Homo sapiens: one gene and its partners. The protein of the gene in region 2 purifies or fractionates together with the protein of the main gene of each other region. This does not show direct contact. Each region holds a gene or a part of one and is shown on either strand. Other genes may lie near its edges. The genes, in order: XRCC3, LAMP3, GALNT12 and LTN1.

Region 1 (7,512 bases), on a different chromosome or scaffold from region 2:
TTAATTCTGAGCTGATTTTGCTTTGACAGAATTTCAAACGTAAAGAAGAGTTGCAAAAATGGGTCAGGAACCCCCCGCCCCATTCTGTGTCAGAACTAAGCTTCTGAGAAGCATCTGGCCCGCTTGAGGCCAGGAACGTATAAATACTGCCTTGGGAGGCCACATCCCTTTTGTGGCTGGTTCCCTTCCCCACCAGTGTCCCCAGCAGTGACTGTGCCCCTAGTCAGGAGCCACAGGAAGGTCGGGGCCCTGGGCTTCCTCCGTCCTGTTGGCTGGAGAGAGGCTGGGCTGGAAGGCTCGGAAGCAGGTGGAACCGGTCAAGCAGCGTGTTTTTGTTGGGGTGACGTTATGTAGGGGCTGCACAGTCATGGGGACATCGTGAAGCTGGCAGGAGGGTGGCTGTGGACAGCCCAGCGGTGGGCGGGGCCCCAGCAGGCCTGGGAGAGCCTCACGCGGCTTAAGCACGGGAGTCGGAATCACTTCAGAGCCCGCCTGCCGCTTTCTTTTCAAAATTCGGGCCTTTAGATTGGATCCAGGAAAGGAAGTCATTTCCCCAGGAAAGCACATCTGACCCCTAACCTTGCATGTGGTCACGGTGGCCGTGGGGCCCCCTCCCTTCCCCTGGCCCGCAAGGCTGGACTGTGCTGTCATCCCGCAGCAGTCACTGGGCTGGGCACAGCTGGGGGATTCAGGGAGGGTGTCCTAAGGCTTCTGTGTCCCTGGGTATCGGGGAGTGTGGGCTTCACTGAAAAGGCCAACGGGGTGGAAGCTGAGGGGGAGTCATTGCACAAATCAGATTTGCACGAAGCCTGGCACGGAGGACGCTGGAGAATGAGGGCGGCTCCCGTCCCGTTCCTGAGCACGCTCGAGTCCCGCCTCCACCTCACAGCAGCTCTTCCGTGCGGTAAGCGGGAGACTCCCATTTTCAAGGCCAACTCCTGTCCTCCCGGCTTCTGGCTGTCTCCAGGCTCATCCCCAAGACCAGCCGCAGGGACTCAGGCACCTGACAAGAGGGTGCCCTCCCCTGGGCTGCAGGGACAAAAATGCCTGTGGCGTGAGCAGACCCCAGCTGGGCTCTCAGGAGACCCCTCACCCTCCACCCGACACGGAGGCTCAGGAGACCCCTCACCCTCCACCCAGCACTGAAGCTCAGGCAGGCACAGCACACCCTGGGTCCTGGGGATGACGCTGACCTGAGGGTGGCAGAGGTGAGGTTCCCAGCCACACCGCTGCTGGCAGGTCAGGCCCGTGAGGAGGTGGCTGGCTGGGCCTGTGGGTCCAGGGCCTGGGGTCCGGCCCTGTGTGGGAAGTGAGCCTAGCAGATGTGCTCGGAGGTGCCACCGATGAAAAAATACTGCCACTCTGTTCACGTGGAGTTTAAGACAACGTGGGAATCGCATGTTGACACCAGGGAATTAGTTTAAAAGTTAAGGAGCTACTGAGAAACATCTCTCCTCCTCACAGCTCACAGTTTAAAACTACGTGAACTTTTAACACCTGAGAGACCCAGGCAGGCATGCTCTGAACGCTTTAGTCCAATGCAGGGAACCCTCGTTTCACAGACAGAGCGTACAGGCTCACGGGGCCGCGCCAGGAGCATACCTGGCCTGGCGGCGGGGCACCCGGGGAAAGGCTGTGCTGCCCTCCCTGCGTTGCTGGCTCTGTGGACTCTGGGCTTGGCAGCTGTGCGGAACGTGGGCCGGCATCGCTGTGCTCAGCCAGCGACCCCTGGGGGCCTAGCTCTGCTGAGGGCCGGCTGCCTGGTGGTGGGGTTCGTACCCTCCCACCCCTCCTGCTGTCAGCTGAGCCCAGCCTCACTTCCCCCTCCCTGTTCTGGAAGGAGCGAGGGCAATCAGGGTGAGAAGGAGGGAGACGCAATGGTAGGAACAGCGCAAGAGGCGGCCACTGCCCCACCTCAACGGAAAGCTGTCCCACACAAAGCAGGGGCCGCCCACCTGCCCAGACCCCACGGAAGGGGTGGCCACTCACCAGCCTCCAGGCCTCCGTGCTGCCGCGGGAACTGCACAGCCAGGCAGAGCTGCAGCGCCAGCTGGGTCTTCCCTGCCGAGCTGCGTCCGGCCAGCTCAGTGATGCCGTCCAGGGGCAGGCCACCGCGGAGCAGCGCGTCCAGCACCGGGCAGCCCAGGCTCAGGCGCTGGTGCTGCGTGGGGAACCGCTCCTTCTGCTGGTGCAGCTGCAGTGCTAAAGGGCAGGGATAGTGTCAGGCCTGACTCTCCTGGGCCTGCGGGCAGGGCTGGGGACTGCGGGAGGCATGGTCAGCCTGCCTGTGCCAGGTGCAGTGTGGCTGGAGCACAGGTGCCTGCGGTCATGGGGGTGAGCAAGGTGCTGAGGGCAGGGAGGGGGGCCCAGCCGGGAAGGGCGGGTGCACCTGAGATGCAGAGTCAGGGGGAGCCCCAGGGCCACCATCACATGCCCGCAGGGATCCCCCTATGGGGCAATTGCAGCACCAGACGCCTTCAGCCAAAGCTTCCAGAGAGCCCCGAGGCGCTCCCTAACAGCCTCCATGTGAAGAAAAAGGCACAGCTCTGTCCAGCTGGGATGCCCTGGGGTGCTGAACAGTTCTCAAGCGGCTTTAATGGGCTCCCGCAGGCGCGCACACATGCACACCACATGCCGTCAGTTCTCTGTGACAGATACCATTCTGGAGCAATGCTGGTCTCAGCCTCTTGGCTAAAGGGCCTTGGATGAGCCATTTGACACAGCCTCCTCCACGACACCGAAGCCCCTCAGGGCAAGGCTCAAGGTGGGACATGCGGTGCAGGCTGCGCTCTTGGCCTGGGGCCTGGGCCGGGAGGAGCAGCCCCTCCCTTGGAGTCTGCACACTGCCTTGGGCACCCCGTCCAGGTGGAGCAGGCCACCCTGACTGTGAGGCCTGCCCAGAGCCCTGCCCACAGCACCGTGTGTGTGGCCGTGGCACCTGCCCACCACGGCAGCCCCAAGTTCAGCACGTTCCTCGGGGCCTGGGCCACTGAGCCACCTGCAGGGGAGAGAGGGCCCTGCTCATGCCAGGACCCCGCTGCCTACTAGGGCCTGCTGAGATGCAGGGATGGAAACCTTGTCCGTCCAGGCGCATGGGGTTCCCTGGGTACCTCCTTCCCCTGCTGAGACCTGGTTTCCCACACGTGGTGGTGGGACCGTGGCCAGGGCCCCATCTCACACCGTTCCCACCCTGCCAGAGCCTGAAGGGCTCTGGGTGCTGACTGCCAAATCCACCCCTGCTTCCTGCACCCCCTCCTCTGGTCCATGGAGCAAGGTCCCCAGGAGGTCCCACAGCCCGTGTCCACCTCACGCATCTTCTGACCCGATGCTGTGACCACAGCCCCATGGGTGTAGGACAAGCAAGATGGGAACTCTGGGGCTGGAGCAGCTGCCACACGCCCTGAGGCTGGTCCCTGGGTGAAGTCTGCACAGCCCCTGCCCTGCACCACTGGGACCATGATGCTGGAGCCACATGTCACCCCTGGCAGAGATGCCAGGGCCCACCTACCTGTAAGGATGCTGCTTCCCCGCAAGTGTAAGGAGGCCGTTCTCAGCAAGTGCCAGACCTCGGGGCTGGAGAGGTTGGTCAGTCTCTTCAAGTCTGGTCCAGAAAAGTGTAAAACCTCCTTTACCGATTTCAGTTTGGCTGAAATAACACAGATAAATTACAGGAAAATGTCAGACTGTCACAACGCAGGGCAACACAGTGACAAAAGGTGCTTTGTTAAGAGCACTGTGAGAGCACCGTGCTTCCGATTCTGGGGACAAGGTGGGTAGGGACCGGATCCCCTGCTCCCTGGAAACCCTGGACACAGTGTGGCCGATGCACAGGCACGAGGAAAGGGCTGCTGGACACTGCGCCCTGAGTCCTGGCACTCGGACAGATACCAGCCTCGTGAGCTGGGGCAGAAGCCAGAAGACAGGGCTGGGCAGGTCCCGGTGCTGAGAGCAGGTTCCGGTACTGAGAAGAAACGACAGGCACCCAGTTCCATGCCAGCTGGAGACAGTGCTCCAGAAGGGGGCAGGAAAAAACCAGCACCGAGCTTTCCACCACCCGCCCACCAGGCATGGATCTGGGCTGAGCCGCGGGAGAGGACATGTGCCCTGGGGAGGGGAGCGCTGGGAGGGTAGCAGAGCCCAGGTCCAAACGCCAGCTGCGCAGGGCAGTCAGGGCAGGGGGCAGAGCATGTGCGAATCAGAACGGCGGTGGCAGCAGTTACAGGGGTGCAGATCCCCAGGACCTGCCATCTGGGGAGGAGGGCAAGGAAGTTAATTTTGGACTCAGATAAGTGCATCACTTTCTAATTTCAAACTTGTAGAAAGACGACAAATGCTGCAGACTGATCAGCCGATCAGGGAAGTGCGAGGAAGCGCACACGAGAGGGAGCAGTGGTGGACGAAGCGCCCCACCCGGCCACGGGGACTTACACCCACCACATCAGAAACCCCCTCAACACGGGTGCGCTGAACGCTGCAGTGAAAAGACAACCATTGTGCGGCTGGAAAACAGTAAGCACTGGTGTGATCTTCAGAAAAGCCACACAGAAAACACAAGGAGATGGAAGGGTGGGAATGAAGAAAGCGCCCCTGGGTTTCACCAGATCCAGCGGAGGGGGCTTCCCGCAGACAGGCTGCTCCAGAAGGCTCTGTGGGCCCTGAGGACTCACCGGGATCGGGGCTGTGGCAGGGCGCTCCCCCTGGTAAGCCTCACAGCCCCAGCCCCCTTCACAGCCGTGAAGTCTGCAGGGACTTCTGGAAACATTGGTTTTTGGATAAGAGACACAGGTGAGAAAGGAACTCCCTGGCTGAGCCCTTCTCTGTCCCTGGTCTGCAAGCGTCGTGTCTGCAGCTGTGGCAGCAGCTGTGATCACAAGGCCACCAACAGGAGGATAAAAACCAACAGCCAAGGATGGAGGGTCAGGACAGCGAGGCCCTGCCCTGTCACCAGGCTGCTGCGGCAGCTCCATGAGCACTCCGGCTTCTCGCCACAGACAGCGTGCTGAGGTTCACGTAGCTGAGGCCCGGGGAGACGGGGGAGGATGGAAGCTGGCAGGAGGGTCCCCGGATGACAGCCAGGCGGCTGGCATGGGGAGCAGGGGGCAGGGGCTGCACGTGGGGCCTGAGTTTTGAGCATTTACTAACTCGGGCGAAAAAAGATGCTGTAAGAAAGAAAACCATCCCCTGCACCACCACACCAGGTTCAACAATGGCCAGTATGCACCCAGTCACAACCCTGACAGCTGATGTCACCCAAACTAGGTTCTAAGTATGGGCAGGGAGCTGGGGGGAGAGGAAGTTGGGGTACACAGGTGTAGGCACGCTCAGTCCTCACAGCCCCCAAGAGAAGTCCATGGATAATCAGTAACACTGACAAATCAAACATTACAACATAAACACGTTTAGGAGCCCAGATGTAAATATTTTTTAAAAAAATAACTAAAAGACGGCCGGGTGCGGTGGCTCATGCCTGTAATCCCAGCACTTTGGGAGGCTGAGGCGGGCGGATCACGAGGTCAGGAGATCAAGACCATCCTGGCTAAAACAGTGAAACCCTGTCTCTACTAAATTTACAAAAAAATTAGCCGGGCGTGGTGACTGGCGCCTGTAGTCCCAGCTACTCGGGAGGCTGAGGCAGGAGAATGGTGTGAACCCCGGGAGGCGGAGCTTGCACTGAGCTGAGATCGCACCACTGCACTCAAGCCTGGGTGACAGAGCGAGACCCCGTCTCCAAAAAAAAAAAACTAAAAGACTTTATGTGGCTCCATTTTACCTTTTAGACAATATGCATGTATTACTTTGATAAAAATAAAAGTAACTGAAAGAAATCCATGTAGTTAAGAACACACACACACACACACACACACACACACCTGAAAATCCCATAGTACATCCCGCCCTCGGTTTAATAATCAGGGTAGGCAAAGGAAGGAAGGCTTAGCCAGCCAGCGTTTTGTTAACCTGCCTTATATAAACTGCACACACCCACCCACACCCTTTATGTAAATAGAAATAAATGTACCTTTCTTAATTGCAGCAATAATTCTGGGATTCAGGTCCAGTAGATCCAAATCCATTTTGTCGGTGGGCTGGCCACCAGGATGAATAACTTCCCAGGAAAGACAGAACAATGGATGCAAATTCTGAGGCACTCGCCTTCAATTCAAAGCCTGTGGGAGGCCCGAACCAGGGAAGTGACAGCAGCCGAGGTGTCCGTGTCATCGGGGCTCTGTCACTGAGGGTGGAGGAGACTTCACTGTAGAGGGAAGGCTGTCTAGCTACATCTAGGGCAACATGTCTGTCATTTACCTCTAAGAATTATTTAGCAGCTTAGAACCCATTCCAGACACTGATGCATTTGAAAAACCCCCCAAACCCACCACATTTACCTCCTGTGGAAAGTGCTAGAAATAAGACCATCCTCCTGCAGCAGTTGAGTGCCCTGCCCGACTCACCTCTCTGGGGCTTGGGGATGACCCGCGTGTTTTTGGCTGACTTGACTGAGGCATCTCTTGCACTCTGCAGTTTAATTTCCCTTAAGTGTCTCCCTGGGGACTCTGGAAAGAGTGGGAAGGTGAGTCTGGGATTGGCAGGGTGCTCAGGGATCCAAACATCAGTCGCCCCCAGCAGCCAACAGCAGAAGACAGCTTCCTGTGGGACGGGAGGAAGGTGCTGTGGACCCCACCCAGCCTCTCCCAGGAAGGGAGCTGGCAGCCATTCCACAGCCCGAGCCTGGCCCAGCAAGGGAGAAGCTCAGCTCTTCTCCCCTCCGGCCTCAGCAGGCTGCTCAGGGACTCAGCCTGGGGTCACATAAGGCCTTTCCAACAGGCCACTCTGCATCCCCTGTCGGCCTCCCAAATGGTGAGACCAAGAGTGTCCAGGACATGGGGAAACTGGAAGGCAGCAGCCTCGAGGGCCGGGTCCAGGATCCATGTCCTCCAGTGAGGCCTGGCGCCCTTGGCCGTAACCCAGCAGAGGAAAGGGCGGGCCGTGGACTTGGAGAAGGTTTTCCCTTGGACCACACAGAATGCGGCACTGGCCTGGACACGATCACGCTGGTCACTCGTATGCCCATGTTCAGCCTGCTCAGGGAGACAGGAACAGACTACAGGAGCAGCAGGCTGAGGCACGCCCCCAGGCACCCCGTGAGGCGGGCAGGGCAGGGAAGCTGGTGCTCCAGGATGCGTTTCCTGCCCGCGCACCAGGCTTGGCTCCCGGGCCCCCACAGCCTGTGGGTTTTCTGAGCAAGGGACAGGGAGGTGCCCAGGCCTGGTTGCCCAGGCAGGCCTGACAGGAACTGGCGAGAAGCCACCCTGGAGGGCCGGGCGCAGGCCAAGGCAGGGCGGTGGGGCGCTGAACCAGCTCCAAACTGCTGGCAGAGCTGGCCAGAGTGAGGAAGTGAGGTTCCCAAGCACAGAAGGCAAATCAAAAAGGAATGCCACCTCCAGGGAAGACACTACACTGCCAAAGGAGATGCGGCCTTGCCCGGCTCGAAAAGAGGTCATTTTCAGAACA
Region 2 (8,037 bases):
GTGAGGAGGGGAGACCAGCAGGGAGCAGGCCTGGCAGGCCTTGGAGACTACACACTGTCTGCAGAGCTCTGAGGAGCACAGTCAGGGAGTCATTGGAGCCCCACGGCCATGTCCAGGTTCAGGGAATCACAGTTTAGCCCCCAGCATGTTTTCTGGCACCTCTAGGGGCAGCAGAAGCAGCCCCAGCAGGGTGCAGCAGAGAGAGTCAAGGAAATCCTAGAGCAGAAGGGCCACTATCCCTGTGACAGACTGCTGGCTGACTATTCCAAAACCCAGTCTCCCCTTCTTTCTAACAGTACCTCAAGTTTCAGCTGAGCACTTGTTGCCTGGAATAAAGAGTTCTATGTCTAAACCTCCTTTCTAGCTGGGTGGGAGCATATGACTGAGTTTTAGCAAAAGAAGGGAAGTGTTAAGATCATGTGGGCCTTCTGGGAAGGCTGGGTGAAGGCAGCTCAATCACCTGTGTGGACTGCCTTTCTACAGCCCTTCTGTTTTTCCTCCTTTGACCAACCTGCAACTTGTATGTGATGGCTGGAGCTCCAGCCAACATGTGGAACCGTGAGGAGGCCTTGAGGGTAGAAGTCACATACCTATATGTCGGATCCTAATGACGGATCTCCAGTGAAGCACTCCCACACTAGAACTGACCTGAATTTCTCTGGACATGTTTTCACATGAAAGAGTAACAAGCAACTATCTTGTTTAATCTACTGTTATTTTGGCTTGTGTCTTACGTGTAACTGAACCTAAACTTAACTGACGTGAACTTAAATCCCCTCATTTTCTGGAGGAAAAATTTGAGATCAGGGAAGCAAGTTGACTGGGTAAAGATTACTCAGAGAGTTTACCCAAAAGCTCCGTCTCTCCTAGCAAAACTTTCTGATGATTTTTGCTCATTTCCAATTCAACAAGGATTTCTTGAGCCTATGCATGCAGGATCATGTAGCACAGTAGCGTAGAGCCTGAACCCCAAGGCCAGACTTCGTTTTTGTTTTGTTTTGTTTGAGACACAGTCCACTATGTTGTCCAGGCTGGTCTCAAACTCCTGGCCTCAAGCGACCTTCCACCTCAGGATCCCAAAGTGCTGGGATTACAGGTGTGAGTCACTGTGCCCAGCCAAGGCCAGATGTCTTGAATGCCAGTCTCAGGAATGCTACTCACTAACTGGGAGACCATGAACAATTCCTTAACCTGCCTCTGCCTCAGTACCGCCATCTGTAAAATAGGGATAAGAATAGCACCTACTTTTCAGGGTTCTTATGAGACTAAATAAGTTATAGGTAAGTAGATGTATGAGTAAAGCACATAGGTTAGCTGCTATGGGCACAGACTCTGGTTCAAAGCTCGACTCTGTCACCAGCTAGCTATGTGATCAGGGGCAAGTTATTTAACCTCTTTGTGCTTCTATTTCCTCGCAAGTAAAACGGAGACAATAGCAGTACTTACAAAGCTGTTTTGTGGATTAAAGCACTGCGAACAGTGCCTGGCATGCAGAGAGTGCCAGGAAGCCATGTCCATCATTGTTAATTACCATGTGCTGATGAGCCCTGTACTGAGTGAAGAAGGGGCTCAAGGTCAGGTTGTGAGGTGAATGGGAGAGGGACTGGAGGGACAAACAGGAGATACGAGTTAACATCACTGAGCAAAATCACTGCAGTAATTGCTGTCCAGGTGCTACCTCATTTGTTTCCCCAGTACTCCTAGCAGAGGATATTATTCTCCCCATTTTTCAGTGAGGGAACTGAGCACCCGAAAGGTTGGGTGATGTGAACAAGGCCTCCCTGCTGGGAAGGGTCAGGGCAAGGGTTTGAATCCAGTTCCGTGCCACCCCTCAAAGGCCTCCACCTCTGAGGAAGAAACCTCTGATGCATCCTTCACCTAGCTCACCTCTGAGAATTTGTAGCTCAGAAAGGAACCGGTAATGTGGGCATTTTCTCTCCACTTGCCCTTGCATTTGTCAATACTCACTGTATTTTTATTTTTATTTATTTATTTTTTTTGAGACAGAGTCTCACTGTTACCTAGGTTGGAGTGCAGTGGCATGATCTTGGCTTACTGCAACCTCCGCCTCTTGGGTTCAAGTGATTCTCCTGCCTCAGTCTCCCGAGTACCTGGGATTACAGGCGCCCACAACCATGCCCGGCTAATTTCTGTATTTTTAGTAGAGGCGGGGTTTCACCGGTGGCCAGGCTAGTCTCGAACTCCTGACCTCAAGTGATCCGCCGGCCTCAGCCTCCCAAAGTGCTGGGATTGCAGGTGTGAGCCACCACGCCTGGCCTGTCAATACCATTGTGTTTCTGAGCCTATCCATCCATTCAAGGAGCGCTCACATACAGGTCACTGTGGGTTACCGCTAGGCTGAGATTGTTTTGCTTTTTTAATAGCTTGCCCTGTGGAGCGTGATGATGACTTCCTCTTCTGTCCCCTAAAAGAACCTGAAACTGTAAGTGTGAAAGTGTGGCGCAGGGGAGAACTGCCTAGGCAAGGGCAGCTGGCACGACCCTTCTCACCTCTTCCCTAACATTCCTAGCATTCATGTTACAAGCAAGGGCCACCGCGCCCCCTGCTTGAGCATGTTAGCCGGGCGGTAGGGACGGAGACAGTTCTCTCATGACGTTCGAGTAACCAGGAAACTTCATCACAGGGACAACACCACAGCACCCGAGGACTCAATGTCTAGGGGGAAAAGCTCTGGAGAAAGCGGAGGGTCGGATCATAAAATAATCATAAACTCAGCGTCCCAGACGGCATCTGGGATGGGAAGTACAATGATCATTTAAAAAAAAAAAAGTCTTTGACACTCTTCCTACACCTTTCTGAAATGGCACAATCTGTCAGACCACATCTGATGCAAGGAAAAGCAAGACAGGAGCGCTTTTCCCGGATAACAAAGCCAAGACTCCCATTCCTAAACCCTAGCTCAGGTCTCCATCTCTTAAATCCGAGTGACCTCTACAAACTCTCCCTGAGAAGGTGTCCAGAACCCTTTTGGAAGCGAGGGACAGTGTCACTGTCTTTGGGGTTGACACCTGCTCTGAGTAACTCACGGAAAACAAGTTCCAGCTGGGAAGCCCTTGGACGCGCCACACCTCCCTACCCGCAGCCCGTCCTGTGGCGCCCGGGACTCCAGAGTGCGTTTAGATGAAAGGGGACCGACACGTCAGGGCCACCGCGGGAAGCGCTGAGGGCCACTCACCGGCCAGGGACGCGAAGAGCGCGGCCGCCGCGCTGAGCTGCCGGGGCATGGTGGGCGCTGGGCGAGGTTCTGCAGCGTGCGGCGAAGTCCGGGCAGGCCCCGAATCGGTGCCAGAGAAACCTACCTGTGCCGGAGAAACGAAACCACCTGCTTATGAGAAGCAGCCGAAAAGCCCGCCCAGGGCCGCTGGGCGGGGAGGGAAACTCCGCCGGCCCCCTCCTACCCCTACGGAGCAGGGAGGGGCGGGGACTCGGCGCAGCCGCCGGGGCCCGGGCCTCTGGGACCGTTTACCGCACGCGCGTGGTCCCGGCAGCGCCGGCCTCCTCCGCTCATACCCTGGGTCTCCTCCTTTCTTTTTCTTTTCTTTTTGAGACGAAGTCTCGCTCTGTCGCCCAGGGTGGAGTGCAGTGGCGCGATCTCGGCTCACTACAACCTCTGCCTCCCGGGTTCAAGCGATTCTTCTGCCTCAGCCTCCCGAGTAGCTGGGATTACAGGCATGCACCACCACACCCGGCTAATTTTTGTATTTTTAGTAGAGACGGGGTGTCACCATATTGGCCAGGCTGGTCTCGAGCTCCTGACCTCGTGATTCGCCCGCCTCGACCTCCCAAAGTGCTGGGATTATAGACGTGAGCCACCGAGCCCGGCCAGGGTCTCCTCTTTTATTTCTTTTCTTTTTATTTCTTTTGTTTTGTTTTGTTTTGTTTTGTTTTTTGAGACAAAGTCTCGCTCTGTCGCCAGGCTGGAGTGCAGTGGCGGGATCTCGGCTCACTGCCCTGGTTCAAGCGATTCTCCTGCCGCAGCCTCCCGAGTAGCTGGGGTTACAGGCGCCCGCCACCACGCCCAGCTAATTTTTGTATTTTAGTAGAGACGGGGTTTCACCCTGTTGGCCAGGCTGGTCTCGATCTCCTGACCTTGTGATCCGCCCGCCTCGGCCTCCCAAAGTGTTGGGATTACAGGCGTGAGCCACTGCGCCCGGCCCAGGGTCTCCTCTTTTCTAACAGCTCGGGTACCTTTCTGGGAACCCAGAGACGCTTCTCAGCCGGGAGAAAGCCAGCCACTAGGCGAGCAGGAGCCTAAAAACCCCTAAGCACCCTGACTCCATGTCTTCCCAGGGAGTCTGCGGCAGCCGCGCTCCACGCCCAGGCCTCGCCAGGACCGCGGTTTGCGGGAAGCAACAGGAGCACAGCCCAGAGGCGCTAGGTCTGGCTGGGAGCTCGCGCTGCCGACTCCCCGGCGTGCGGCGTCGGGGAACCTCTAGGAGCCTTGGATTCTTCAGCTGTAAAACGGACATAATAATGCCCACTCCCAGTGTGTTTTTTTATTTTCTTTTTTCTTTTTCTTTCTTTGTTTTTGTTTGTTTGTTTTTGTTTTTGTTTTTGAGACAGGGTCTCACTCTGTCGCCCAGGCTGGAGGGCAATGGCGTGATCTCGGCTCACTGCAAACTTGGGTTCAGGCGATTCTCCTGCCTCAGCCTCCACAGTAGCTGGGATTACAGATGTGCGCCACCACGTCCGGCTAATTTTTTGTATTTTTAGTAGAGACCAGGTTTCACCGTGTTGGCCAAGCTGGTCTCAAACTCCTGACCCCAGGTGATCCGCCCGCCTCGGCCTTCCAAAGATCTGGGATTACAAGCGTGAGCCACTGTGCCTGGCCCCAGGTGGTTTTACAGACCAGAAAATCCTGGAACAAAAAACACACAATATCGTTTTTTTTTTTTTTTTGGAGTCAGGGTCTCGCTCTATCACCCAGGCTGGAGTGCAGTGGCGTGATCTCGGCTCACTGCAACTTCGACCTCCTGGCCTCAAGTGAGTCTCCCACCTTAGCCTCCTGAGTAGCTGGGACCAAAGGCGCGTGCCACCACGCCCAGCTATTTTATTTTATTTTATGTAGAGAGGAGGTCTCGCTGTGTTGCCCAGGCTGGTCTCGAGTTCCTGGCCTCAAATGATCCTCCTGCGTTAGCCAACCATTGGGATTACAGGCGTAAGCCACGGCCCACGGCTCAACAACGCTGACAGGCAACCTTTTAATGTCTTATCTCCTTCCTCTATTAATTGGATTGTCTGTCAAAACAACGATGTTTTGACAGGGCTTGAGTCCCAGTGGGGAATACACATTTAAGCAGTATATTAGGAGACCCTCCTTATCACTAGATTGAGGGCTTTCAGCCTAGCCTCAAATTATTTTCTGAAAAATAACTTTGGCTACAACTATTTTGTCTTACTATGTTGCTCCAAACACTAATCAAGTAAACTTAACCAAAGCTTGCAGTGTGTTTCAGAATGGAATTTTTATGGTGAAAAGTGAGGGTTAACTTGTGCCAGTCAACCTAGTTTCAGCAACTACCTGCTTTCTGATCTTTGAGACAGTTTATTCAAAAGACGATAATTAAGTGGGTATAGACTGTGTGCCAGGCACTCTTCTTATTCCATTTAAGCGCCATAGCCACTCTATATGGACACTGTTGTTATTATCGCTGCCCCATTTCGCAGATGGAGAAACTAAGCACAAAGAAGGGAGTTGCCCAGAGTCACTTAGATAATAAATACCGAAACCTGACCATAAATCTTGTCTGCCTTGAGAGTCTAGGATTTTAAGCACATAGCCGGGCGCAGTGGCTCACGCCTGTAATCCCAGCACTTTAGGAGGCCGAGGCGGGCGGATCACGAGGTCAGGAGATGGAGACCATCCTGGCTAACACAGTGAAACCCAGTTCTATTAAAAATATAAAAAAATTAGCCAGGCGTGGTGGCAGGTGCATGTAGTCCCAGCTACTCGGGAGGCTGAGGCAGGAGAATGGTGTGAACCCAGGAGGTGGAGCTTGCAGTGAGCGGAGATCGCGCCACTGCACTCCAGCCCGGGCGACAGAAGGAGACTCCGTCTCAAAAAAAAAAAAATAAATAAAATAAAGCTGCTCCTCTTACCCTGGAAATTCCAAGGGATTTAGGAGCTCTGTTTCAGGAACCAGGGTCAAAGACCAAGTATTAAAACAAAAGATTCTCCTAGAACTCTGGCATATAAGGATTTTAGGAGCTCTGTCTTAGAAACTGGGACAGAGACCAAAGATATATTATTATATCGCAGTATCATAGTTTATTATTTTCAAAAAACGTTTTCTGGCTGGTACAGTGGTTCATGCCTATAATCCAAGCACTTTGGGAGGCCAAGGTGGGAGGGTCACTTGAGGCCAGAAGTTCAAGTCCAGCCTGGGCAACACAGGGAGACCCTGCCACTATTAAAAATTTTTTAAATTAGCTGGGCATGGTGGCACATGCCTGTAGTCCCAGCTACTTGGGAGGCTGAAGCAGGAGGATTGCTTGAGCCTGAGAGGTCAAGACTGTAGTGAGCTGCGATCAAGCGACTGCACTCTAGCCTGGGTGACAAAGCCAGACCCTGTGTCTAAAAAAAAGAAAAGAAGAGGAAAAAAAAAGGTTTTTATTTCAACTAAGTTGTTGGATTTATTAGCATAAAGCTTTTCATAACAATCCCTTGTCTTACAATATCTGTAGTATAGGTAGTGATGTCACTTCTTTTATTACTAATATTAATAATTTGTATTTTCTCTCTTATTTCCCTGCTAATATTAATAATTTGTATTTTCTCTCTTTTTTCCCTGATAAGTTTGGCTGGAGGTTGATCAATTCTATTCATGTTTTCAAGAAAAAAAAAAAAATTTCATTTCATCGAGTTCCTTCATTGTTCTTATGTTTTCTGTTTTATTCATTTCTACCTGATCTTTATTATTTTCTTTCTTCTACTTAACTTGTGTTTTATTTGCTCCTCTTTCAATAGTTTTCAAAGATGGAACTTGCCTGGGATATCCCAGCACTTTAGGAGGCTGAGGTGGGAGGATCACCTGAGGTCAGGAGTTCAAGACCAGCCTGGCCAACATGGTGAAACTCCGTCTCTACTAAAAATACAAAAATTAGCTGGGTGTGGTGGTGGGCACCTGTGATCCCAGCTACTCGGGAGGCTGAGGCAGGAGAATCGCTTGAACCCGGGAGGTGGAGGTTACAGTGAGCTGAGATCACGCCACTGCACTCCAGCCTGGGTGACAGGAGCTAGACTCTGTCTCAAAAAAAAAAAAAGAAAAAAAAAAAGATGGAAGTTGAGGCCAGTGGTATAAAATCTTTCTTCATCTCTAATAAACAGGTTTACTGTTATGAACGTCCCTCTAATTACTACTTTAGTTGGATCCCACAAGTTTAATATGTTTTCATTTTCATATAATTAGAAAGACTTCCTAATTTCCTTTTGCTATCTCCTCGACTCATGGTTATTTAAAATAGCATTATTTCATTTCCAAACATATAGTTTTTCAGATATCTTTCTTTTATTGATTTTTAATTCCACTGTGGTTGAAAACATAATTATGGACTTAAATCTTACAAATTTATTGATATTTGTTTTTTGACCAAGACTATGGTTGGTTACATTAGTTTTCAGGACTGACATAACAAAGTGCCACAGACTGGGTAATTAAACCACAGACATTTGCTTTCTTATAATTCTGGAAACCAGACATGTGAGATCAAAGTGTCAGCCGGGTTGGTTTTTTCTTTTTCCTTTTTTTTTTTTTTTTTTGAGACAGAGTCTCTTTCTGTCACCCAGGCTGGGATGCAGTGGTGTGATCTCGGCTTACTGCAAATTCTGCCTCCCAGGCTCAAGCGATTCTCCTGCCTCAGCCTCCCGAGTAGCTGGGATTACAGGTGCCTCTCACTGCACCTGGCTAATTTTTGTATTTTTAGTAGAGACGGGGTTTCACCATGTTGGCCAGGTTGATCTCAAACTCCTGATCTCAGGTAATACACCCGCCTCGGCCTCCCAAAGTACTGAGATTA
Region 3 (8,390 bases), on a different chromosome or scaffold from region 2:
ATGCTAGTCATACTATACTACTATGCTTACTGACTTACTTACTATACTTATTTATATTAATATATATTAATACTTACTATGTTACCATGCAAGGAAGGATTCCTAGTCATCATTAGCCTCCTCTTCAATTCAGTGCTGTAACTAACAAAACTATACTCGAATCCACTGGCATGTAAATTATTAGATTCATAGAGGGGCCCAGGTCTATACTGGCTCTCACAGAATTAGGACCAGTACTCTAAAATGTCTTTTTAGTGGTCTGGCCTTCTTCAAGAAGGCAGACACAGTGCCACACCCTGCTGACACCAGGAAGAGTCAAACCAAGTGGTCCCTTAGTCATTCCCAACTCCTTTCCTCTGATAAAAGGCACTGCAGAGTAAAGACTTTCATTAAAAGTCTAGGAGGCACAGCAAAATGTTAACAATGGTTCTCCCTGAGTGGTAGGTTTATTGGGGATTTTCATTTTTTTCCTTTTCTGTTTCTCTGTGCATGCCAACATTTCTAGAGTGAATATGCATTGCTTTCATAATTAAAATAAACATAGAAATAATCATCCCCACCCAAAAAGGGAGGAACGAGTAACAGATATGGACTGTGGCTCTGCCTGAGATGTGCTATGTGACCTGGGGGTGTGGCTTTTCCTCTCTGGTTAGACTAGATGCTCCTCCCTCAGGGCCCTCCCTCCTGCAACATTCAAGGACCCTCATTATCCCTCTGTTTATTAGACTCGCAGAGAACCCCATACCCACACTGTGAACTTATGATCTGCCATTCAGGTTTCTCAGGCAAAATCTCAAGACCCTGATTAGCTCCTGGATGAACTGTAATAAAAGTGAGATGCCACAAAATACCCTGACCCTACTGACCACTCTGAAGTTACATCTCAAAGCCTGGCCCAACAGAGACCCACACAGCTCAGGCTCACCTTTCTCTCTGGCTGGGTAAGAATAACCCAACAGGCCTTGCTGCAGGAATTAGAAGCAGGAGGCATTCACACTCCTTATCATGCTGGGTTTGGCTTAACTTCCAGGGTCAATGCAACAGCAGGATCTACAAGCAAATCCTGAGAGGACACAGGGCAGCTGCGTCACCATGGAGACAGGTTACCATAAGCCCCACAGATTGTCCACAGTGTTTCAAAGAGATATTCACAACCTGCGACAATAAAGGAAGTTGGATCCAGGAAAGAAAAACTACAACCAATCCCTGGATGACTCTCAAAAGCAACCTCTTGAGTACATTCTTGGCAACAGGGAAAGGTGAAAAAACTAAGATTTAAGCACACAGTGTGCTCCCAGGTATTGATGCTTTATTAATTCCTAAGTTGTGTTCTTTCCACTCACTTTTATGTAGAATGCATGGAGACTCACTTTTATGAGTTTCCTATTTCGCAAACGAAGGGAAACCAAGGCTCTGAGAGGCTAAGCAGCTTGCCAGAGATCACAGAAGTGACGAGCAAAAGAACCAGGATTTTATCTCCCCTGGGCTGGATTTAATCTGAAGCTGGGTATAACCTGAAAGCTTCCCCTCCACCTTGCCTCAGCGGGCACCCTCGGGGTTTCGAGGAGCTAAACATGCGTTAGGCTGGTGAGTGGAGGAACTACTATCAATCCCAACAAAGTTTTATTCAAAAAGACTAACAGTGAAAAATGCCTCAGGCAGAAGCATGAGGCTAGGCATGAGGAGATCCCCAAAACAGGGAAGACAGTGGAAACAGTGGGGCAGAGGTGGGGCATCCTCATTCCATCATTCATGGTCTCTCTGGCCAAGGTACCATGGAGCAGGCCCCTAAAATCCTGAGATCAGCATGGTGCCAAGTGGGCCAGAAGGGCCATAGTCCCTCCAGACCAGTCCTACCACATTCCAGCTGAGGGGCCTTGGGTGGGTCACCTATCCTTTCCGAACCTATTTCCACACCTGTAAAGCAGGAATGGCTTGAAGGGGAGAGGAGTGGCAGGTGCCTGGTGCACACGGCAGGCTGCCACCACCAGCTCCAATGGGAACCCCCTCTCTGAGTCCTCTTTTCCTCAAAGTCTGTAAGGAAGGGGCTCAAAAAAGGACTTGGAAGATCCCTGACACTTCGAAGAAAAAGTGAGAGCCCGGGAGGCCCAGCGGCAAAGGTGGCAGCAGCCACCTGTCCTTCCTCCTGCTGCCAGCGTGTGCCCTGGATCCCCACCTAGGCAGGGGCGCAACCTGCCCAGCCAGTAGCTCCAACAGGAACTAGGCCTCTGACCACGCTGGCTCCAGTCCAGCACCACCCACAGGAGTGAGCTGGGGTGGATCACGGCCAGAAGGAGCCCTTCCCACCCCGTGCCCCTTCCCGCCTTCCTCCACCCAAAGCTCAGAAATCCAATGCCCAGGGAGAGCACAAGGAGGCTTTCTAGCGCTGAGGGGGCCTTACAGCCATCTTTCGCTTCACCTGTGGGGCGCTCCCTCGCATCTTGTTTGTCCCTTAGGCCCTGGCACACACAGAGAATGAATGGAGCCGGTCACCGCCCGGAGGAGTTGTCAGTTTCGCGGAGGCACTGCGAGGCGGGCAGAGCGGGGTTGTCCTTTGGGTGCTGGGGGGTCCTCGCCTTAAACCCTTCTGCTTAGCCCTGACCCTCACCTTTTCAGGGAGATGATAACTTCTCAAGGAGAAGGGAGCTAAGAGATCACTAACAGACTTGCCAATTTCTGGTAATTTTTTTTCTACTTTCGTCTTTTTTACTTTCTTGCCTCCCCGCCCCCATGTGAGCTCTTACACTATCGTCTTCGGAGAAAGACTCAATAAGACGCGCCATCCTGGAGACCCCAGCTCCCCGCCCTGCCACTGCTCTGATGGAGAAACTGAGGCCCGGGGCTCTGAGGGCGGGCTTCCTCCCCAGAGCTGTGCACTCACAGCGGGTTCCAGCGCTCGGGCAGGCGGCGGTGCAGTGAGATGCGGTCGCTGAGGTAGATGTTAATCTGGTGCAGCCGCACGCTCTCCTCCTGCAGCCGCAGCTCCTCGCCCTGCAGCTGCAGCCGCACCGCCTCGCCCCGCGCGCCCAGCGCGTTCGCCGGCACCGGCGGCCGCGGCATGACCGGCTCGCGCCGCCCGGGGCGCGGGGTGCGCGGGGGTCCCGGCTCGGCAGCCCCGGCCCCGGCCCCACGCTGCGCCCGCAGCACCGAGCCCAGCCCGGCCAACGCCAGTAGCGCCAGGAGCACCAACAGCGCCTCCCGGCCGCGCCGCAGTTCCCGCGGGCAGCGCCGCCGCGCCGTGCGCCCCCACATGCGCCCGCCAACTGCAGCCAGCGATCTGCGCGCCCCAAGGCGGCGGTGGAGGCCAGGACCCGGATCCCGGAACCGCCGTGCCGCCCCGCCCCCGGCCCGCCCCACCTGCGCGCCGCCCCCTTTCCGTCCAGCCCCGCGCCAGCCCAAGCGCAGCCCCCGGGGTGGCTCATTTCGGCAGGGTCTTCAAGTGGGCTGGCTGAGACTTGCATCTTCCTTCTTGGGCTATGGTGCATTATTAAAGAGATAGTGGTGGTAAAACCCTTAGCGCCTGGCATATTGTAGGCGCTAAGTGTTGGCTGAATACACCCTGCAGGGTGTTATGAATTCTACTGCCATTATCTCATCTGATCTTTACACAGTCCAATAAAACAACCATCAACTAGGATTACGAGCTCCCTTTTACAGATGAGGAGATGGAGGTGCGATGAGATCAACAGACACCACGCTGCCCCACTGACTTCTGCAGGCCCAGCCTCTGCCATACTCTTTGGAGTCCTTGAATAGCAAACCCTCGCCTGGCTCGCCTCGTGATAGCTCTGTGACCTCTGAGGCTAGGAGCAAAAGGCCATGAAGGCTGTACATGATAGTTCACACCTGTAATCCCAGGCCGAGATAGGAGGATCACTTGAAGCCAGGAGCTTAAAACGAGACTGGTCAACATAGCAAGACTCCCATCTCTACAGAAAAATTTCAGAATTAGCCATGCATGGTGGCACGTGCCTATAGTGCCAGCTACTCAGGATGCTGAAGCAGGAGGATTGTGTGAGCCCAGGAATTGGAGGTTACCGTGAACTATGCGCCACTGCGCTGCAGCCTGGATGACAAAGCGAGATCCTGTTTCTATTAAACAACAACCAAAAAAGGCCATGAAGCTGCCGCCCTGTTCATGAGATCACTGCTGTGGGAGCCTTGAGCTGCCAGGGACGAAGTAAGTCTAATGGAGTAGACAAATATTAAAAAGATAATTAGAATTGTGTTAAGTATTTTGAAGAAGAATTACAGGGCGCTAAAAGGGCTTAGAATAGTAGAACTTGATCTAGTTTGGGGGTTTTGGAAAGCTTCTCTGATGAAGTAATGTCTACACAGATATCTGAATGTAAAAGTGATAGCAGAGATTTCAAATCATATCTTAAATTAATCTGGAACTCCCTCTGCTGGTGTCTAGCTCAGGGAAAAGAATCATTCTGTATCCCCTGTAGAAGGATAGAGTGTAAGCTCTATTTGTTGTTGTTTGTTTTACCATGGGAAGTTGGTCCAAAGCTTTTTATCAAATATTCTCAAGGAGACCAGAAGCCCAGAAAGTTTAAAAAGCACAAATCTGGTCCAATTATCTCATTGATAAATGCGGGGTCTGAGACACAGGGTGGGGAGAGGACCTTGAACTTGGCGGCTCAGGTAGAGGTAGAATCTGACTTGCTGTTGTCTTCATACAGCCTTTGGCTACTGGTATCCCCAGAGGAAATCTCCCTCAGGTTGCAGGAGGGGGGTGGGTTTTGGGATGAACCATGCAAAGCAGCTCCCACTCAGGACAACCTGCTGCTAATATTAGACTAGAGGGAAGTGGCTCTTCCCACAGTGCTCAGGGCCCCGCCTGCTTCCCACGCAGAATGGAGGCTGCTGGTTAATGCCAGAAGGCGGTTGTGTTAGGTAGGTCTGGACCTGAGCCCTTTGGCCTCTGTTCAGACACCCAACACATTTAAGATCTGCGGTCAGATTAGAAAACAGACAAGGATTACAATTCATAATGTCTTGGATCCGCTTGCCAAATTGGAATGCTTCTCAATAGAGGTTCAGATACAGAGAAAAGAGAAATGCAATTAGGCCTTACAAGACATGGACTTAAGCCCCAGGTAACAGATAAAAGCTATTGTTTACTGAGCACACACTGTGTGCTGTAAACTGCTGGACTTTCTTTTTCATGTACTTTCTCATTTCACCCTATGACAACCTTGCAAGGTTGACAGATGAGAATATGTAGGCTCAAGAAGTGAAGCAACTTGCCCAAGGTTACACAACATGCAAGCGGTAGAGGGAGGATTTGTATCTGGGTCTCCTGACTCACAGTCCAGGATTTCCCACCACACCACTCACTGTTGGGCAGGCTGCAATGAGATGCAAAGGCAGCTTAGCTTAGGAGGTCGGAACACAACCTTGGAGCCCACTTGCCTGAGCTCAACCCAGCCCCATCACGAATTGCAGTGTGACCTCAGGCAAGTTGCTTTACTTATCTCGGCTCAATTTGCTCATCTATTAAATGGTGATCTAATGATAGCACCACCTGAACAGGGTTGTTGAGAAGATTGAGTGATACAGTCTGCACAGTCAGCCTCCCGGGGCACAAAACAGAGTGGAGAGAGTGTCAGTAAGGCAAAGGGAAGATGTCCAGCACCTTGCTGAGTGAAGTATGATATTTAGACCAGAAGCATTGGTACCACCTGGGAGCTTGTTGGAAATCTAGCATCTTTTCAACAGAGGTAAAGCCCTTGGGTTTATTGCTATTTTTAGGGGGCTTATCTGTTCACTAACAGTACCATGTTATGTCATCGGCTGCTCACCAACAAGTAGATATCTCTAGAAGATGCTTTTAATTTGTCATATTAGCTCTCTTCATAGGAGTTATTACATTCCTTTTAGAGTTTAATATGATCTATGGTAGATGTGGTATTTCAAATATTAGTGGGGAACATGTGCCTAATTCAAGTAATAATTGGGACAACTTGATAACCATTTGGAAAAAATTCAAATCAAGTCCCAACATCACACTTTACATCAAAATAAATTCCAAATGATCTGAAGATGCCACAGTAAATAAGCAAAAAAAGGAAGGAAGGAAGGAAGGGAAGGGAAGGAATTTAATTATAAAAGTATTGAATGAGAAAAACCAGAGACCATATGGAAAATATTTCTAAATGTGACTATATAAAAATTTTGAATTCTGTAAGGCTTCCAGTATAATACAAAGTCCAGAAACAAAAGGCAAGTCAGAAAGAGATATTTGCAGATGACATTTACCCAGTATGTGAATCAATAGGGAAATAAAGAGAACAAACAGAAATAAAAATGGTCAAAGGATTTAAATAGACAGTTCCCACCCAAAAGGATATAAATAGTTTATAAAAGTATGAAAATATGCTCGATCTCTCTAAAATACATACAAAATAAACCTACCCTGAAATATTTTTTCACCTATCAGACTGGCAAAAATGAAAATGGCTATTAATTCCAGTGTTGGCAAGGATGTGAAAAAACACTCTCATCCACTGTTGGTAGGAATGCAAACTAGTATAACCTTTTGGAAAGCAATTAGGCAACATTTATTAGAAATGTTAATATTAACATCTTTTTGATTTTGCAATTCCACATCTAGGAATCTATCCAACAAACATAGACTCGTAAGTGCTCAAAAGATATGCATACAAGGAAGCTTATGGCAGTATTGTATATAAAAGCAAAAAGTTGGAAACAATCCAAATTTCCATCAAGAGATTATAAAATAAAATATTGCACATCCGTACAATACCATAATATACCACAGTGCTATTTGCAAGCATGAGTTAGTTGTAGGCATTTAACATACACATGTGTTCAAGATGCATTGTAAAGAAAAGAGAAGCAAGTCGTGGAGCTATATGAATAGTATGATCCTATTTTTGTAAAATAATATATATTAACATATGAAAGGGGAAAAAATCTAAAGGAATATTTACCAAACCATTAACTATATTATATTTACTTCTGATGGGTGAGATTCTGTGGTCCTTTCACTTTTGTTCCATTTATTTGTTTTTTTTTCAACAAATATTTATTGATCACCTACCATCTGGGAGTCAGTGTGCTAGATTCTGGGGATTTGAGGTAAACAATATCCAAAGCCATTGATCTCAAGGAGTTTACATTCTATATTTCTACAACATCAGAATTCTTTAAAACAATCGTTACCTTATTAGGAAAAAAAAGACATTTAAAGTAAATATTGTACTCTTTCGAGATTATTTTACTTCTAAGCCTTCCTTATCTCCTGCCTAATCCACTCTGTCAGTCTGTGGTCCTCCTGTCCCCCTGCTCTCTCCTTCCAATATGTTTCCTCCTTTTTCCTACAACGACCTAGACCCCACCCATCATTTCTGCCCAACTTGTAGCCAAGCTCTGCCATGAAGCTGTCAGTGGCATCCTCCAAACTGTGACATCTTCCTTTGAATTGACGATGAAAACTCATAGACCCCACTGTTCTGCAGTCATGTGGGATTTCCTGGGAGCCATGAGGCCATGTTTCTATCATTCAACACACATAATGCCTAGCACACAGAAGGTATTTAGTAAATGCTGGCTGAGCCTGGTACCGTGGCACACACCTATAGTCCCAGCTACTCAGGAGGCTGAGGCAGAAAGATCACTGGAGCCCAGGAATTTGAAGCTGCAGTGCACCACGATGGTGTCTGTGAATAGCCTCTACACTCCAGCCTGGGCAATAAAGCAAGATACCATGCCTAAAAAATTCAAAATTAAGAAAAAATTTTAATTTAAAAAAGTTGGTTGAAAGGAATTGTGTTGGAAATGAGGTGCATTGCTCAGATTACCCTTTGGGAGAAACTTTTAGGGGAAACACGGTTGACTGCCAGCTCCCAGTGGCTATGCCTTTGGATCCTTTGTGGTATCCTCTGGCTACTCCCAGTCAGTGACCGAGCATGGTGTGGTACCAGAACCTGGCCACATCTGCATGATATAGGACACAACCCGTGCTTGGGAATCCCCCATCTGCCTGGCTGAGACTTTCCCTCGTCACTTCCCATTCTCCTTTCTCAAGTATCAGACCTGCATCATGGTCTGAGGGCTCCCCATCCCTTTTCCCCGACTTTCCCCTTTCCCTCTTTTTTTTTTTTTTTTTTTTGAGACGGAGTCTCACTCTGTCGCCCAGGCTGGAGTGCAGAGGTGTGATCTCTGCTCACTGCAACCTCCGCCTCCCAGGTTCCAGCGATTCTCATGCCTCAGCCTACCAAGTAGCTGGGATTAAAGGCACGCACCACCACACCTGGCTAATTTTTTTGGTATTGTAGTATAGATGGGGTTTCACCATGTTGGCCAGGCTGGTCTCAAACTCCTGACCTCAAGTGGTCCACCCATCTCGGCCTCCCAAAATG
Region 4 (7,512 bases), on a different chromosome or scaffold from region 2:
GCCATCTAAACTCTAAAGTAGTTTTTCTTGTTTTATGGAACCTTAATACTTTATGAGCAGAGTCTTAAAATCATCTTTTTTTTTTGAGACAGAGGCTCACTGTGTTGCCCAGCAGGCTGGAGTGCAGTTGCAACATCTCGTCTCACTGCAACTTCTGCCTCCCGGGTTCAAGTGATTCTCCTGCCTCAGCCTCCCGAGTAGCTGGGATTATAGGCACCTGCCACTATGCCCAGCTAATATTTGAATTTTTAGTAGAGACAAGGTTTCACCGTGTTGGTTGGTCAGGCTGGTCTTAAAGTCATCTTTTAAAAAAACCATCAATTAAAAAACAGATTTGAGTTTTGGAACCAGAAAAGGACCTTAGAGATTTTCTAAGTTAATCTTTCCAACTTTCAAATTAGGAGATAGGCCCACGCTGATTAAAAGATTTGTCCAAGGTCATAGGCTAGTTAGTGATAAAGCTTGGACTAAAATATAAGCTCTGGTTACCTACAATTTTTAAATAAAAGGATAAAGTTTTCCAAGCACTACCCAATCTGCACTTGGATTTTTTTTTTTCTTCCAGATTGCTTTGAAATGAACCAAGTTGCAAATTCCTTACTTCTCAGCCCTTAAAGCAAAAGAAGCTCTGGGAACATGGATCAGCATGCTTTAGGGGTGGATTTACAGCTTTTTTTTTTCTTGCTTCCCCACCTCATGAAAATAAGTTGCTGTCAGATATCTGGCCCTAGTAACTCTATATCAGAGAATTTGGGGAAATAAATCCCATTGTTCATATTGAAGTAATTTACCATTATTATACACTAATTGTTCTTTAATTTTAGCAAAATTAATGAACAAAAATTTATAGAGCATTTATAAATCTATCTTCAAAGTTTATTCATTATTCATTGAACATATCTACAGTGTTGATAGCAGGTATCAAAGAAGTTTAAGACAGTCTCTACTCTCAAGGAACTTACAATCTCATTGGAAAGACAAGATATACACAGATGAAACATTTAAATAATTATACAATCCAGTAAGTGCTTTAGAAATTCAGAGAAAAGCAGTGATCATTGTGGGCTGGAGTGGATGGGGAGACTCCATAAAGTAGGTGGGATTTGTACTGATTTTCAAAGAATGGATGGGATTTTAAGTTAAAAAAAAAAGGGGGGGGTGGGGGAATATTTATGGCTGGGAAGGTAACAGCAAAGCGTGGAAGTGAACATCATACAGGCTTAATGGGGAACAGGGAGGATACCAGTCTTCCTAGAACTTCAGGAGGAGGAGGAGGGGGGATAGAATTGGAGCCATGATAACGAAGGGATAGTAATATGGTACAAGTAATATTTTGGACAGAGAGAGTATTTGATCTTGCTGTTAATCTTTGCTTTAATTTTATGGTTTTAGGCATGTCCTAGTTCAGATAAACATGCTTTAGTAACTCCTTGGCTCAAAGGCGATATCCTTGGTGAGAAATTGGTCAACTTGGCAGATTGTCTTTGTAATGAGGACTTGGAATCCAGGGTATCTTCAGAATCTCACTTCTCAGAAAGATGGACTCTTCTAAGCTTGGTATTATCCCAACATGTTAAAAATGGTAGGACAAATATGGCTTTTGTTTTCTAATGGGGAATAGTCCATTTCTCCTTTGTGGGGGATTGCATGGGGCTCAGCTTATGTGTTATTGGTTAAAAATAACAGGACTTACTCATTCAAATTTTTTTTTTTCTTTTCTTTTCTTTTTTCTTTTTTTTTTTGAGACTGAGTCTCCCTCTGTCGTCTAGGCTGGAGTGCAGTGGTGTGATCTTGGCTTACAACATCTGAGTTCAAGTGATTCTTGTGCCTCAGCTTCCCAAGTAGTTGGGACTACAGGTGCATGCCACCATGCCTGGCTAAATTTTATATTTTTAGTAGAGACGGGGTTTCGCTGTGTTGGCCAGGCTGGTCTCGAACTCCTCACCTCAGGTGATCTGTCTGCCTCAGCCTCCCAAAGTGCTGGGATTACAGGCGTGAGCCGCTGCGCCCAGCTCATTTACATATCGTAATATTGTAAGCACCCTAATTGTTTATTAATCTTCATACCATGACTTAGAAGATATTTAATATTTTTAGTTCTATATCCTAAAGGGTTTTTTTTTTTTAGCTCATAAAGTTGACTCATGACTTAAAGGGTTTTCAGTGTACAAACTTGCTCACCCTAACTGTAGACCATTTCTGTTTTCTACTTAATTTAAAACTGCCTTTTTTACTTGAGGGCCTTTATGTGTGAGAGAATGTGTTGATTTGTTGATAAAATTTTGTCTAATACATTTTAAAATCCAGGAAAGACCCATAGAATTATTAATCCAAAGTAAGATATTTAAAAATACACGTTAATATTTTTATTTTTTGTCTGTTTGAACCTTTTTTTCTCCAGATTACTTGATTGGAGACGTATATGTTGAAAGAATCATTGTTAGACTTCATGAAACTTTATTCAAAACAAAGAAATTATCAGAAGCTGAAAGCAGTGACTCATCAGTGTCTTTTATCTGTGATGTGGCCTATAACTATTTCAGCTCAGCGAAAGGATGCTTGCTAATGCCATCATCTGAAGATTTATTATTAACTCTCTTTCAGTTATGTGCTCAGAGCAAAGAAAAAACACATTTGCCAGGTAATAGCCTACTGCTCAAATGTTTTGTTGGGAATCTCCGGCTCTGACCTTCATAGTGAGTGTAAGTGCCCAGGCTTTATTAATTGAATTATAATGTGTTTGAAAGTTTAAAGCATTTTGAGTAAAGGGCTACAGTCTTAAACACTTTCAGCTCTAGAAAGCAAGTTAAAGATGTACGTAGATGTTATTTCTAAAGATCTCACTTGATATTCAAAGAAATTTGGAATGAGCCATAATTGATTAGGTGGAATCTTAGTCCATTCAGTAGTTCTGGCATGTTCCTTAATTTCTTGATGTCTTAGTTTCCTCATTTGTAAAAGGGGGATAATAATATCCCTTTATTATAGTAAAAACATTCAATCTTTGGTGTATATCAAAATAGAATTGAAATTATCTTTTTAAGGACTATATTCTTGCCTTATATGCTAATTCAGACTTATTTGTGAAAGGAACATAAAAAAATACTATCTATAGAGAGCTCTCCTCCTCCCACCCTTCATTCTTTCCTTTCTTTTTTTCTTTCCTTCTTCCTTCCTCTTTCTCTCTCTCTTTTTTTTCTGCCCATCATTGGCTACCAACCCTTTCTTAAATACTAACTTCTGTATTTGGAAATGGTGTAATAATTTTTTTAAAAATGTCTCCAAAAGGACAACTCTTGTAAATAAGTTCAAGCATAAAAAATGTAACTTTAAAAATCTTACCATTTTACATTTATATGATACGTGCTAGCTTGTATGATTGCATGTTTATGACACAGTTGCTTTGTTTGGCAATTGAATTTTGAATGGCAATTTAAAATTTTTCTTTTTTAAATGGTATTTAAAAAAATCTCAGATCTGTAGAGTTGTTTCAAACATTTTGTGCTGATGAGAGTTAATTCAGTGAGATTACAAATTCCTGTTGACATCTTGATTTTAGATTTTCTTATCTGTAAACTGAAAAATACTTGGCTCTCTGGTGTAAATTTATTGGTTCATCAAACTGACAGTTCATATAAAGAGAGTACCTTCCTACATTTGTCTGCTCTGTGGCTGAAGAACCAAGTTCAGGCTTCATCTTTGGATATCAACAGGTAACCTTTTTTGAGCTTGGTTTCAGTGTCTCTTTTATACTTGAACAGTGTCCTTAAATTAGATTCCATGATCAGTGTGAGTGCCTATGAAAAATGACTTGTAGGGCTCGTCCCTATAATCCCAGCTACTCAGTAGGCTGAGGTGGGAGGATCAGTTGAGACCTCCAGGAGTTTGAGACCAGCCTGAGCAACATAGTGAGATGCCATCTCTTAAAAAAAAGAGAAATGAAAAGTGACTTGTTAGGTAACAAATCTACAGGACTCTTATGAAAAGACCCAAACGAATTTTTCCAAAACCATTTTGTTTCAATGACCATCCATTTAAACTGCCAGTTAATTGAAGGATAATTTGCTATAACATACCTGCTGGACTCATAACTTATAGACAGTAAAGTGATGGTGATACTATCCTTTGTCATAGGCTGGTGTGCATTGTAGCCTCTCATGGTCACCACATGTACTGATTGTTCTTGGTTATTTATTTTTTGGGGACAGGTAGGCAGTGTTTTAAGATGTTGAATTGCAAGTATATTTTACCTCTCATACCTAAATCCATATAATAAAGGAGAAGAGAGAATGCATTTAGAGGATATTGGGTTTAGGTAAAATAGTGCTGCATTTCATAAGGTAGCTGTATTTCTGAAATACCTGGTCTGAAATAGGTCAGGTCCTCTTCATTCTGAGATAGATAGGAAGCAACACTAGATTTCAAATGATAAATATTGGATTACCTCCCCAGTTTGACTGTTATGTTGGTGTGTCATCGGTGGGGGAATGTCACTTACCTCTTTTTATTTTCATCATTTCTTTTTGTTCAGGTGAGCTATTATAGGGTATTTAATATGTATTGGGGTATTCAAACTAGTCATAGCGTAACTACAACAGTTAAGTTCTCTGCATTATTTTTAGTCTCCAAGTCCTCTTGTCTGCTGTTGATGATTTGCTAAATACACTTCTAGAGAGTGAAGATTCTTATCTTATGGGAGTTTATATTGGAAGTGTAATGCCGAACGACAGTGAATGGGAAAAGATGAGGCAGTCTCTTCCTATGCAGGTATTTTGGAAATTGAAGAGTACATATCTCATTCTGAAGTTTGGATTTCATGCAAGCTTGAATATTTTTATTTTGGGGAAGAAAAACATAAATAAAATGAGTATTTTGCTTTGCTTTGATGTCTTTGTATGCTCATATACTGGATGTTTGCTTTTTGCAAGACACCATTTGACAGTGGCAGTGGGCATGGTACAAAGACTTAGGACCTAGTTCTGTACTTAAGGAGTCTTAAAGAAATACACATGTTGATAATTTCCTGTAAAAGAAAACAAACTTCTAGGTTTCTGTGGTTTTGGTAATAAATATTCTCACAACTTCATTTTTGTTCAGTCTCAATTGCTTAGGTAATAAATAATTTTGTATATAACGTATTCTTTTCACAGTGGTTACATAGACCTCTTTTAGAGGGAAGATTGAGTTTGAATTATGAATGTTTCAAAACAGATTTTAAGGAACAGGACATAAAGACACTTCCCAGCCATTTGTGTACTTCAGCATTATTGAGCAAAATGGTCTTAATTGCACTGAGAAAGGAAACAGTCTTAGAAAATAATGAGCTTGAGAAAATAAGTAAGTATATATGAGTATTTACATATAACATAATGCATGAATGAATATAATTTTGAAATAATCTTGATTATACTGCAGTTTAAATCTTTAATTCAAGAATCTTCAGCTTTCTTTTTCCTATTTTAATGATGAGAACCTTGAAGTTACTTAAGTGGTGAATGTGAAATTGCAAATTAGATACGAATATATTGGAATCTTGCTATAATCTTGTTAACTGTGGATCGTAATTTGGTGTTAGCTACTCAGGCTGTCATGACATCAATGTAAACAGATCCTGTGGCACATACCCTAAAGAAAATGGGTGAGGCTTTGGTGTTTTATCAAGGATTCAGAATTTTCTGTTGATTAAAAAAAAATTGATACCTGATAATTTTACATATTTATGGGGTACATGTGATATTTTGATATATACATAGAATGTGTAGTGATCAAATCAGGCTAAGCAGGATATCCATCACCTCAAACATTTATCATTTCTTTGTGTTGAGAACATTTCAAATCTTCTAGTTATTTTGCAATATAAATCATTGTTAACTATGGTCATCCTACTGTGTTATTGAATACTAGGTCATATATCTTCTCTCTCACTGTATTTTGGTACCCATTCACCGACCTCTCTTCATCCCCTGCTCTCCCTGACCCTTCTCAGGGTAACCATCAGTCTACTATACTATTCTATCTTCATGAGATCCACTTTTTTAGCTCCCATATACAAATTAGAACATGTGATGTTTGTCTTTCCGTGCATGGTTTATTTCATTTAGCATGATGATGTCCAGTTTCATCCATGTTGCTGCAAATGACAGTATTTCATTCCTTTTTTTTTTTTTTTTTTTTTTGAGACAGAGTCTCGCTCTGTTGCCCAGGCTTGAGTGCAGTGGCGCAATCTCGGCTCACCACAACCTCTGCTTCCCAGGTTCAAGTGATTCTCCTGCCTCAACCTCCCAAGTAGATGGGACTACAGGCGCACACCACCATGCCCAGCTAATTTTTGTATTTTTGGTAGAGACGGGGTTTCACTATGTTGGCCAGGCTGGTCTTGAACTCCTGACCTCGTGATCCGCCCGTCTCAGCCTCCCAAAGTGCTGGGATTATAGAAGTGAGCTACCGTGCCTGGCCTCATTCTTTTTTTAATGGCTGAATAGTATTCCATTGTGCATATGTACCACATTTTATATATCCATTCATTCACTGATGGACACTTAGGTTGATTTCATATCTCAGCTATTGTGAATAGTGCTGCAGCAAATATAGGGGTGCAGATATACCTTTGATATACTGGTTTTCTAAATATTCAATGGGATTGCTGGATTGTGTGATAGTTCTATTTTTAGTTTTTTGAAATACTTCCATATCGTTTTCCAAAATGGCTGTACTAATTTGCATTCCTACCAATAGTATATAAGTTCCTATTTCTCTGCATTCTTGCCAGCATTTGTTATTTTTTGTCTTTGTTTTTTTAGAGATGGGGTGTTACTATGTTGCCCAGACAGGTCTTTATCCTGGGCTCAAGCAATCCTCTTGCCTCAGCCTCCCAAAGTGCTGCGATTACAAGCAGTGCCACCATTCCCAGCTTATTTCTTACCTTTTTGACAAGAGGCATTCTAACTGGGGTTTTGATTTGCATTTCCCTGATGATTACTAATATTGAGCATGGGATTTTTTTTTCCTTTCTTGCCGTTGAGTTGTTTGAGTTCCTTATATATTCCTTATGTTAGCCCCTTGTTGGATGAATAGTTTGCAAATATTTTCTCCCATTCTACAGATTGTCTCTTCACTTTGTTGATTGTTTCTTTTGCTGTGCAGAAAGCTTTTAGTTTAACATAGTCCTATTTGCCTGTTTTTGTTGCCTTCGCTTTTGAAGTCTTAGCCATAAAAATATTTGCCTAGACCAATGTCCTATAGCGTTCCTTGATGCTTTCTAGTTGTTTTATATAGTTTCAGTTCTTAGGTTTAAGTCTCTAATCCATTTTGAGTTGATCTTTTTAGATGGTGAGAGATAGAGGTCTGTTTTCACTTTTCTACATATGAATATTCAGTTTTCCTAGCACAATTTCTTGAAGAGGATGTCCTTTCCCCAATATATGTTCTTGGCATTTTTGTTGAAGACTTTGTCAATTGCCTGCAAATATGTGGATTTATTTCTGGGTTCTCTAGTTCTGTTCCATTGGTCTG

Evidence for each region.
Region 1: the proteins of LAMP3 (region 2) and XRCC3 purify together in Homo sapiens (affinity purification with mass spectrometry; 2 studies listed by BioGRID and IntAct, with this or other methods). This does not show direct contact.
Region 3: the proteins of LAMP3 (region 2) and GALNT12 purify together in Homo sapiens (affinity purification with mass spectrometry; 2 studies listed by BioGRID and IntAct, with this or other methods). This does not show direct contact.
Region 4: the proteins of LAMP3 (region 2) and LTN1 purify together in Homo sapiens (affinity purification with mass spectrometry; 2 studies listed by BioGRID and IntAct, with this or other methods). This does not show direct contact.

The regions. Positions count from the first base shown.
Region 1 is NC_000014.9:103,705,014-103,712,525, forward strand, and holds part of XRCC3 (DNA repair protein XRCC3), read right to left. Parts: intron 6,649-7,512; exon of another isoform or gene 6,555-6,648; 5' UTR 6,453-6,554; intron 6,233-6,452; 5' UTR 6,075-6,232; coding exon 6,020-6,074; intron 3,647-6,019; coding exon 3,509-3,646; intron 2,203-3,508; coding exon 1,990-2,202; intron 1-1,989. UniProt on the Homo sapiens protein: Involved in the homologous recombination repair (HRR) pathway of double-stranded DNA, thought to repair chromosomal fragmentation, translocations and deletions. Part of the RAD51 paralog protein complex CX3 which acts in the BRCA1-BRCA2-dependent HR pathway.
Region 2 is NC_000003.12:183,159,411-183,167,447, forward strand, and holds the start of LAMP3 (lysosome-associated membrane glycoprotein 3 precursor), read right to left. Parts: upstream 3,325-8,037; 5' UTR 3,246-3,324; coding exon 3,197-3,245; intron 1-3,196. UniProt on the Homo sapiens protein: Lysosomal membrane glycoprotein which plays a role in the unfolded protein response (UPR) that contributes to protein degradation and cell survival during proteasomal dysfunction.
Region 3 is NC_000009.12:98,802,561-98,810,950, reverse strand, and holds the start of GALNT12 (polypeptide N-acetylgalactosaminyltransferase 12), read right to left. Parts: upstream 3,282-8,390; 5' UTR 3,253-3,281; coding exon 2,882-3,252; exon of another isoform or gene 2,745-2,881; intron 1,887-2,744; exon of another isoform or gene 992-1,886; coding exon of another isoform or gene 926-991; intron 126-925; exon of another isoform or gene 114-125; coding exon of another isoform or gene 78-113; intron 1-77. UniProt on the Homo sapiens protein: Catalyzes the initial reaction in O-linked oligosaccharide biosynthesis, the transfer of an N-acetyl-D-galactosamine residue to a serine or threonine residue on the protein receptor.
Region 4 is NC_000021.9:28,954,587-28,962,098, reverse strand, and holds part of LTN1 (E3 ubiquitin-protein ligase listerin), read left to right. Parts: exon of another isoform or gene 1-1,021; intron 1,022-1,392; coding exon 1,393-1,582; intron 1,583-2,401; coding exon 2,402-2,641; intron 2,642-3,559; coding exon 3,560-3,713; intron 3,714-4,622; coding exon 4,623-4,767; intron 4,768-5,150; coding exon 5,151-5,337; intron 5,338-7,512.